Linked DNA regions of Homo sapiens. The protein of the gene in region 3 purifies or fractionates together with the protein of the main gene of each other region. This does not show direct contact. Each region holds a gene or a part of one and is shown on either strand. Other genes may lie near its edges.

Evidence for each region.
Region 1: the proteins of C2CD3 (region 3) and BBS7 purify together in Homo sapiens (co-immunoprecipitation; one study listed by IntAct). This does not show direct contact.
Region 2: the proteins of C2CD3 (region 3) and BBS4 purify together in Homo sapiens (co-immunoprecipitation; one study listed by IntAct). This does not show direct contact.

Annotation. Positions count from the first base shown.
Region 1 is NC_000004.12:121,828,931-121,832,586, reverse strand, and holds part of BBS7 (BBSome complex member BBS7), read left to right. Parts: intron 1-3,656.
Region 2 is NC_000015.10:72,692,654-72,696,309, reverse strand, and holds part of BBS4 (BBSome complex member BBS4), read right to left. Parts: intron 1,134-3,656; coding exon 1,082-1,133; intron 1-1,081.
Region 3 is NC_000011.10:74,101,500-74,105,155, forward strand, and holds part of C2CD3 (C2 domain-containing protein 3), read right to left. Parts: intron 2,127-3,656; coding exon 1,632-2,126; intron 1-1,631. UniProt on the Homo sapiens protein: Component of the centrioles that acts as a positive regulator of centriole elongation.

The DNA.
Region 1 (3,656 bases), on a different chromosome or scaffold from region 3:
ACTTCTAACTCATCTTCTATAAGCTCCAATAATTCCTCTCAACTTCTCAATATAGTAGAAACTAAACTTTTCCTTCCTTTTTTTAACCTGTCTCTGAATGTGAAATGGCCTACTTCTTGGGCAAGGCCAATATCTCTACCTCTACCCATTAAGCTTGGATCCTCCTGCTTCTTCAAAGTCTTTGCATTCTCATTCTCACATCTGTAGGTTGTTTTTTGTTTTTGTTTTTTTGTTGTTGTTGCTGTTTGTTTTGTTTGTTTGTTTTGAGACAGGATCTCACTCTGTCACCCAGGTTAGAGTGCAGTGGCATGATCTCGGCTTACTGCAGCCTTGACCTCCCACCTCAGCCTCCTGAGTAGCTGGGACCACAGGCATGCACCACCATGCCCAGCTAATTTTTTTATTTTCTGTAGACAGGGTTTCACCATGTTGGTCAAGCTGGTCTCAAACTCCTGAGCTCAAGCAATCCTCCTGCGTTGGCCTCCTAAAGTGCTGGGATTATAGGCGTGAGCCACCACACCTGGCCTGTAGGTTGTTTGTTTTGTGTGTGTGTGTGTGTGTGTGTGTGTGTGTGTGTTTTTGTTTTTTTTGCTTTGTGTTATTTGTCTGGGAGAGAGCTCATTATTCTTTCTCTGCCTCTGCCTCTTAAGGTTCTTTCCCTAAGCAGATTATTGTGGTTTTCTCCTAAGTTCTAAAAACTTAGCATGGTAAAGTCTCAACTAGAGAGCAAGAAGTAGAATACCTCTTGCTTCTCTTGTTATTTTAGGATAATAACAGTATTATTCTAAAAACATAATTTTACCTCAGAATTCAGCCTTTTAGAACCAAGAACTCTTCAGAAATCTAATTGGTTTTTAACATCCATTCTGTGGAGGTTTTTCACTGTACCGTCCAAGGAAGCTTATCTGTGTCTAAACCTGTAATAATTACTCCCATTTTGAAGTACCACAATGAACCTCACACATTAATCATAGCAGACAATTCAACATGCCCCTAGCATATTATATACTTTTATAATAGCAGACCTTTGCTCTTTTATCATTCTGTGTCTTTGAGTATTTTTTCTTAAGATTCAAAACTGTTTATCCTTTAAGGTCCAACTTAATAGCTACTTTTTTTTTTTTAAGAGAGTCTCACTGTGTTGCCCAAGCTGGTCTCAAACTCCTGGCTTCAAGCAATCCTCCTGCCTCAGCCTCCCCAGTAGCTGGGATTATAGGTGCAAGCTACTGCATCCTGCAGTAGCTACATTTTTGAAGCCTTCTTTGATTCTCCCTTGATTCTCTTCTCTGTTTCCATAGCATTTTTTCTTACTTGTCTGTGATATTTATTGTTATCTGCTTAAAGTATATAATAATTTTTTATTTTTTATTTTATTCTTTTTTTGAGACAGAGTCTTGCTTTGTTGCCATTCTGGAGTGCAGTGGCACGATCTTGGCTCACTGCAACCGCCACCTCCTGGGTTCAAGTGATTCTCCTGCCTCAACCTCCCGAGTAGTTGGGACTACAGGCATGTGCCACCACGCCCAGCTAATTTTTGTATTTTTAGTAGAGACTAGTTTCACCGTGTTGGCCAGGATGGTCTTGATCTCTTGACCTCGTGATCTGCCTGCCTCAGCCTCCCAAAGTACTGGTATTACAGGCATGAGCCACCAAGCCCGGCCTCTAATAATTTTTATACAAACTTATTTCTCTAAGTTAAACTTTATTTTCATGGACAGTCTAATTTTAAATATCTTTGTATGTAGCCTGCAAGGACCTAAAACATAGTTTTGCACATAATAGGTACTCAACAGATGTTTTTCGGATGCCTGAATAAAATATATGTGTATGGAGGTAGTGTAGAAGTATGTGCTTTGGAGGCAGATGTACTAATGTTTCAATCCTGGCTCTGTGACTTACCAGCTGTGTGACCCTAGCTGGTTGCTTAACTCTCTGAACTTCAGTTTTCTTTTCTGAGGAATGAAAATAATAGCACTTACTTTATTGAATTGTTATGATGATTAAAAGAAGATAACCATTTGAGTCATTCTATAGTACCTGGCACTATGTGTTTACTAAATATCATCTGTTAAGATTAAAGACTAATAGAAATGTCATGATTTCTAAAACATAATTGAGATCAAAGTAGTAAGGGTGTATTATTTATCTTTCTAGAAAAAAAAATTATCTTTTTTTTTATTTGTTTTGAGACAGGGTCTCACTCATCAGCCCAGGCTGGAGTGCAGTGTCTCAATCTCAGCTCACTGCAACCTCCTCCTCCCAGGCCCAAGTGATTCTAATGCCTTAGCCTCCTGAGTAGCTGGAATTTTAGGAGTGTGCTACCACGCCTGGCTAATTTTTGTATTTTCAGTAGAGACGGGTCTCACCATGTTGGCCAGGTTAGTCTCGAACTCCTGACCTCAAGTGATCTGCCCGCCTTGGCCTCCCAAAGTGCTGGGATTACAGGCGTGAGCCACCACAACGGACCAAAGCAATTATCATTTGCATATAGCTAGTTGGTATACATCATTTGTGTGTGTGTGAAAACCAAATGAAAAGGTAACATTAACTATATGAAAGATGATATATATTAATTAGGAAACTTGGTCATCGTAAAAAGGAACCAAATGCAAGCAGCTTAACCAAATAAAATAAATTTATCGGCTCACATAACTTAAAAGTCTAGCAGTAATCTGCCTCACGCACAACTGGATCAGTGGCTTAATTGATGTCATCAAGATTTTATCCCTTGTTCAGTTCTGCTTTTATCTTTTCTTGGCTTTACCATGCAGTGTTATGGCCACCAGCAGTTCCTAGAATCCAGTCTTACATATTTTCAGCTGCTATAGAGCTTCTCTTGCCCACTGGCTCCAATAAAAGTCCCAGGATTGAGTATCATTGTTAAGCCATGAACCACTGTGGTCAGGGGTATGGAATGTACTGCTCAATGCTTCCTCCTGAAGTCCCAGAAATAGACTGAGACCATTGCCACTGAAACTGAAGAGGGCAAGAGAAAGAGGAGTGGTACCCTAAAGAAAAATAACGATCCTGGCCGGGCGTGGTGGCTCACGCCTGTAATCTCAGTAGCTCATGCCTGTAATCCCAGCACTTTGGGAGGCCAAGGTGGGCGGATCACAAGGTCAGGAGATCGAGACCATCCTGGCCAACATGGTGAGACCCCCATCTCTACTCAAAATACGAAAACATTAGCTGGGTGTAGTGGCATGTGCCTGTAATCCCAGCTACTTGGGAGGCTGAGGCAGGAGAATCGCTTGAACCCAGAAAGTGGAGGTTGTAGTGAGTGGAGATCACGCCACTGCACTCCAGCCTGGCAACAGAATGAGACTCCGTCTCAAAAAAAAAAAAAAAAGAAAAATAATGGTCCTCTGACCATAAGCAGTGGCATTGGATGCTGAGCATGAAAAACAGCAGATGTCACTCTTTCATATTTGATATCAGATTTCTTTTAAGGATAAAGCATATAGTCACACTGTAATTTGTGTGATTACATGAAAGAAAAACATACTTATGTAAGTAAGCAATTCTAAGTGCATTTTATATATGTCTATATATGAGACTAGCTGTTGGAAATATTAGTGAAAAATGAAGATAAAAGTTGTTTAAATGAAGTTTTTATATAAATTGTCACATCTTTAGGAGGCATATATCTTGTTTAG
Region 2 (3,656 bases), on a different chromosome or scaffold from region 3:
AAATAACTAAAACTAAAATATTATCAGGCAAAGTAGACTTCAAACAAGGAATATTATCAGAAATTGAAGAGGAATATTATATAAAGACAAACGGGTCAATTTACCAAGAAATCAGACAATCCTAAATGTATATGCATCCAACAACAGATCTTCAAAATACACAAATCAAAAATTGATAGAACTGAAAGTAGAAACAAATCCACAATTACATTTGCACACTTCAACACTCTTCTATCACCCTTCCAATCAGTAACTACATCAGTAAGAATATGAATATCTGTAATTGTAAGTATATACAGAACACTATCAACCAACTTGACCTAATTGACATTTACAGAATGCTACATCCTACAAGAGCAGAATACACATTATTTCCAAGTGTACATGGGACATGCACCAACACAGGCCACATTGTGGGCCATAAAACAAACCATATAAAGAATGTTCTCTACCCACAATAGAATTAAACTAGAAACCAACAAAGCAAAAAGATACCTGGAACTTCACAAAGTGGTTTTTCCAGAAGCAGAAAATTAGTACACACTTACATAATAATCAAACCCCATTTAAATAATTTCCAGGTCAAACCAACCTCCTAATATCTAATAACTCTATTAAATAAAAGCTAGATGTGACAGAACATTTAGACTATTACTTCTTTTCCCAACACTCATTTTGAAATAATATAGAATAGATAAAAGAATCAACAAGAGAGAGAAATCTGGCCAGGCGTGGCGGCTCACGCCTGTAATCCCAACACTTTGGGAGGCCAAGGTGGGCAGATCACCTGAGGTCAGGAGTTCGAGACCAGCCTGGCAAACACAGTGAAACCTCATCTCTACTAAAACACAAAAGTTAGCCAGGTGTGGTGGCGTGCACCTGTAATCCCAGCTACTCGGGAGGCTGAGGCAGGAGAATTGCTTGAGCCCCAGAGGCAAAGGTTGCAGTGAGCCAAGATTGTGCTACTGCACTCCAGCCTGGGTGACAGTGAGACTCTGCCTCCAAAAAAAAAAATAAATAAATAAATAAAAGAGAAATCTGTCTGTGCAAACATACACATACCATGAAACTGCATACAGACCTTTTTTCTGCCGGGGTTTTTGAGACTCAGTAGATACAGGAAATTGAGTTCTCTGAAATGAAATAAGTAGTCTATATTGAAGCACCACAATATAAACTTGCTAACTTAAAGAAGCATCCAAATAACAAGAATAATCAGTAGCTCACCAATTATGCAATTAATCCATTAAATCCATATTGTGATAGAGTTACTTTAAATATGGTTTAAAAAACAAATGTCAAGTCATACTTTTGCTATCCAAACTATTAACAATGTATAACACATATTTATAATATTTACAATGTGCATTTTTAATGTATAATTATAGTATATAGTAAAATGTGCATAAGAAATATACTCAGTTCTTAAACACCTCATATGAGTATTATACTTGATGCCATACTTCTCAGCAGCCAAACCAAAAAAGTGATCGCTGTTTGATAAAAGGAAGCTTATGAGATCATCTACACAGAAACTGTCTAGCACTCAATTCTAAAAGGGAGATAGTTATTTTCCACTATAACCTCATAGAAAACCATCAAATGAATTTTTCTTTTCTCAACTTCCTATGACATACCACAATATAAGCAAAAATAATGGCTCAAATTTTTCCAGATGTAATGAGAAACACCAATCCTTAGTTTCTGGATACTCAACAAATCCTGACCAGGTTAAATGAAAATAAATACATACTTAGATACATCATAGCGAACTGCACCAGAGACAAGAAGCAGCTCTTAAAAGCAGCCAAACAAGAAAACATATCACCAGATTACCAACAAAGAAAGGACAGTTATTTGAGAGGCCAAGGCGAGAGGATCACTTGAGGTCAGGAGTTCAAGACCAGCCTGGACAACATGGTGAAACCCCGTCTCTACTAAATATACAAAAATTAGCTCGGCATGGTGGCACGTGCCTATAGTCCCAGCTACTTGGGAGGCTGAGGCAGGAGAATGGCTTGAACTTGGGAAGCAGAGGTTGCAATGAGCCAAGATCGTACCATCGCCCCCCGGCCTGGGCAACAGAGCAAGACTACGTCTCAAAAAAAAAAAAAAAGGAAAGAAAGGCCAGACGCCGTGCCTCATGCCTGTAATTGCAGCACTTTGGGAGGCCAAGGCAGGTGGATCACCTGAGGTTAGGAGTTCAACACCAGCCTGGCCAACATGGTGAAGCCCCATCTCTACTAAAAATACAAAAATTAGCTGGGTGTGGTGGCAGGCACCTGTAATCCCAGCTACTTGGGAGGCTGAGGCAGGAAAATCGCTTGAACCCAGAAGGCAGAGGTTGCAGTGGGCCAAGATCACACCACTGCACTCCAGCTTGGGCGATAAGAGCAAAACTCCATTTCAAAAAAAAAAGAAGAAGAAAAAGAAAAACAAAAAAGACTGACAGCTGGCTCTTCAACAATTAAAAATGGAAGACAATATCACAATAAGACATCATAAGAATAATTACTCCAGTGTCAGGTACTAAGTAAAATGAATGTTAATTTAGACCAGAGGTCAGCAAACTATGGCCCACAGGTCAAATCCATCCTGTTTATTTGGTCTACAAGCTACGAATGATTTTTACATTTTTATATGGTTAAAAAAATTCAAAAAATAATAATTTTTAACACATGAAAATTGAGTCAAATTTCAGTGTCTATAAACAAAATTTGTGAGAACATACCCACACTCATGTTTACATAATGTCTATGGTTGCTTTTGTCCTACAACAGCATTGCTGAGTAGTTGTCAGAGAGACTCTATGGCCCACAAAGCCCACAATATTTACTATCTGGCCCTTTACAAAAAAAGGTTTGCTAACACCTGATCTAGATTCTCTCACCCATCAAAACTAATTTTCAACAACAAAGGCAAATTTTTAAAACTTTCAGAATTTGAGAGTTTTTAGATTCTCACCAAATAAACTTTTAATGAAAATATATTAGGAAAAAGAAAAATAATCCCAGAACAAAGGAGTGGAATAAGCAAAGGAATTGGTAAAATAAGCAAGTATTCTAAGCATCTACTGACTGAATAAAACAAACAAAAAGCATAATTTGTGGTGTTTAATTAAAATACATTAAGAACTACAAAACTAAACAACAATGGCATACATTTGCAGATGGCAATAGATGGTAGTAAAGCATTTGATGGTCCCTGTAGTAGCAACATTTAGGCCTGGACTTACAGTAAACATGTATTTTTTAATTTCTTTGGTACTCATTAAAGGAAGGCAAAGTATAACTTCCAAGGCATGAAATAAGAGGAGCAGAAAGGGAGGGGTAACAGATGGAAATTCAGTTTTTTTAAAAAAAAGAAAGGAGGTAGAAAAAAATGCAATTCTCCAGTTTAAGACAGATAGATCAGCCAGGTGTGGTGGCTCACACCTATAATCCCAGCACTTTGGGAGGCTGAGGCAGGAGGATCACACGAGCCTAGAAATTTGAGAACAGCTTGGGCAAAACAGCGAGACTCTGCCTCTATAAAAAAAACTTTAGAAATTAGCCAGGCATAGTGGCAGGTGCCCTTAGTCCTAGCTACTCAGAAGGCTGAGGTGGGAGGATCTCTTAAGCCCAGGAAGCGGAGTTGCAGCAAGCCATGATTGGACC
Region 3 (3,656 bases):
ATACAAACCTAGTGTTTATATCCTGAACACATTTCTGTTCCTTGAAACCAAAAAAAGTAAAACTAGAACAGCAACCTAACCTCCAAATAAGGAAGTTGCAGGCAACTACTTCTGGGACAAAGTAACCTTAAATCTCAAGGCTGAGCAGGAGTTAACTGATACAAAAAGCTCTGCTTAAGTGGTGTCAAGAAGGCTTAAAGGAAATTCAAGGCAGAAGAAAGAGCACATATGAAGATACAGAAGTAGGAGAAGAGAATATTCAGGAAAGTCTAAGTAGCTGAGCACAGCTGGGCTATCTAGTATAAGGGGAAGAGTGGCAGGAGCTGAGGCTGGAGAAGTACATACAGTCAGTTTTCAAAGGGTCTTGGATGCCAAGGATTTACATTCCATCTTGAAGGATATAGGGAATCACGGAAAGGCTTTAAGCAGGAAAGTAAAATGTTCAGGTTAGTGTTTTAGAAAGGTCATTCTCATTGGTGCATAAAGGAGGCAATGGACATAAAGAGAGCTGGGAAACAGCTATACCAGTCTGAAGGCTATTTGGAAGGAGGGTGAAGGTTTGAATGGAAGCAGTGGCAGTGCAGTGAAGGTAAAGGGATGTCTTCCAGATAATTAAGTTAGTAGTATCTATTAGACTTGGTAAGTAATTACATAAGAAAGAGTCAAGGACAAATAACAGGTTCTACTTAGGTGCCTGAGTAAATTATAATTTGAATTAGGGCAGACAAAAAGAGGAAGAACAGATTTGGAAGAAGTGATAAATTCAGATTTGAACATGTTTGAATTCATTCTTTCATTTACACATCTTTATTGAATACCCAGTATGTGCCAGGCAATGTGTTAGGTGCCAAGTGTAAACTGCTTCTGAGATATCCAGGTGATAATGACCAGCAGGCAGTTAGATACAGAAATCTCAAACTAAAAGGAAATGTCTGGCTTATATAGAAATGTAGACATGGAAGTTATCTTCATAAAAATGAGTGCTGAAGCTGTGTTGATAGATGTGATGACCATGGGGAGAAGTGGGTTGATTTGGAAGAGTGCCAGCAATAGAGTAAGAGTGGAAGCACCAACAGTTAAAGGAAGAAGTACTGGGGTTACCACCCTTTTCCTAGTTTTCCTTCTGGCCCAATGACTGAAAAAGAACAGCTTTGAGTGAGGAAGAAATTAAGACAGTAAAGTTACAAAAACCAAGAAAGAAAACAATTTAAGCACCACATTACACAGAAAAATCAAGTTAAGATGAATACTGAAGTAGGCAGAAGAATAAATGTGAGGAGAAATATATAAAATAAAGTAATAAAGAAGGAGAGATTGGAGAAAGATGGGGAGGTTTAACTAATCAAAGTCTTAGAGGAAGCAGAAAGGAATAGAATCCCAAAACTCAGGCAAAAGAAACAGTGAGAAACCATGTGAACTCAGACAGAATAGAAATAAAGACAAACAGTTTTAAAATGTTGACAATGCCTTTCCCTCTTCCCATCCAATAGTGGGACTGAATCTGTACACCAGATAATTACGAAGGTTCCTTCTAGTCTGAACATTCTAGATTTAAGACGAAATAATAATTTGGGAGGCATTTGTCTCTCACCCCTATATTCCTCTAATGGATATGGAATGTACAAAGTTACCTGAGAAAAGTTAAAGACCGGTTGTGTTGTGCCCCATGCGATGACAGATCTGGTGACTTCCTCTGTGCTGAAGAGTTTACAATTTAAATAAACATTGCATGGTGATTGTTTCTCAGATTCTCCACTAATAAAATCTTTCCCATCTGGCACCATCAACAGCACATGCAACAGCAAAGCACTCTCTTTTGTTGTCCCATTTGTCTGATTGACTAAATTATGGGAGGCTGGCGTAGCTACGAAGGTTGAAGGATGTGGTGCTACAGGGCTTGGTGACTTTCGGTTGGGGAGCACCAAGTTCTGTGCTTTCTTTGCAGTTTCCTCATGAATTTGGTTTAAGTTTTGTGGATTTTTGGTACAGGTCATATCTTGGTTAAGTTCTGGTAGTGCCTTATTTGGACTTGTAGGAGCACAAAGTGGGGTATAATGGGTGTTGCCACTTAACTTAGTATTGATACCAGTGAAATCTTTGTTATCTGTAATAAGCTCCATGGTTACCTGTAAAACACAAAAGGAGAAGAGTCAATAAGAATGTCCTTTAGAATTGGAATTAGAATTTTGAGGCTGGAAACAACATCAGATTATTAGGAAATGAATTAACTCATCCTCAAACACTCTAATAGTAAGAATATTAACAGAATGCATATACATTAACTTGCTAGACTAAGAAAAACTAGACAGATGATTTATCAATAACAAAAGATGAGCCTGGAAGATCAAGTTATGCCAGAATATAAGATAGTTCCCAGAAAAGAATGGAGCCATGTTTAAAGGACCCAGAATCCAGCTGAAGAGGCTCCCACTGGCTAAATCTAGGACAACTTAAGCATCAGAATGAATAACAGTAATGGATTATAAACTATTGAATAAGAATCCATGAATCCATCCTGATATAAAATAAATATGAGAGAAGAAACAGCTTCTCTATATAGAATGCCAATTAATAAATGCAAAAGAGACGGTAGAGTTAGAAATCACCATTTGACAATCATCACAGTAATAAGTGATTCAGGTTAACCCCAGTGGAGGAACATTCTTTAAAATAACTGGCATTACTTAAAAATATCAGCATATTGAAAAATAAAGAAAGGCTGCAGAACTGTTCCTGACTAAAGGAGATTAGGAAGATCTGACAAAATGCAATAGATAATCCTGGACTAGAAAAAAATATTTGCTATAAAGGCACTGGTATAATTGGTGAAATCTCAGTATAGCCTGCAGATATAGTATCAATGCTATGCTGACTTTTGTAACTCTAGAGTATTATGCATGATGATGTCCTTGTTCTAAGGAAATACATAAAATATAAACTAAAGAATTTAGGGGGAAAGAGGCATGATGTACAACTTACTCTCAAATAGTTCACAAAAAAATGTGTATGTACATGTATGGGGGGAGGAGATAAAGGGACAGAGAGAGAGAGGCAGAGAAGAGGCAGACAGACAATTATAAAGAAAATGTGACAAATAGTAAGAATTGGGGAGTCTCAGTAAAGGGTATAAAAAAGTCTAAATAATTAAAAAGTAAAAAAGAAAAGGGAAGCAGGATAAATGATGAATTTAAAGAACAGAAGTGGTCACTAACTGTTAGGAGACTCAATTACTAGGGGTAAAAGGTTCTTGCTGTTTCTTCGATCTGAAATCCTAAGTGTTACATAGCAAGGTTCTTTTACTCTGTTGAATATAGACAGCAATCTATCCAGAATAGTATTTCTCTCAAAAGAGCCAGAACAGAAAAAATTTCTAGTTGATCAATCCTATTTATAACCCCTTTCTGATTTTAAACTTTGTAGTTCAGAATGAACCAGGCAGACAAAAACTATAACTTGGATAGCAAGAGTAGGTGATGTTAATTTTTTGCAATAATAATTGTGTAAGTCTTTAAAGCAAAGTGGTATTTACTAAGACCAAGAAGAGAGACAAGGCTTTCAAGAAGAAAAGGCAGTATGATAATCAATAACAAAAACACAGAGGCATGAACCAGCATGATACCTTACTGACTCTTTACGTAGAGTGACATAGTTATTGG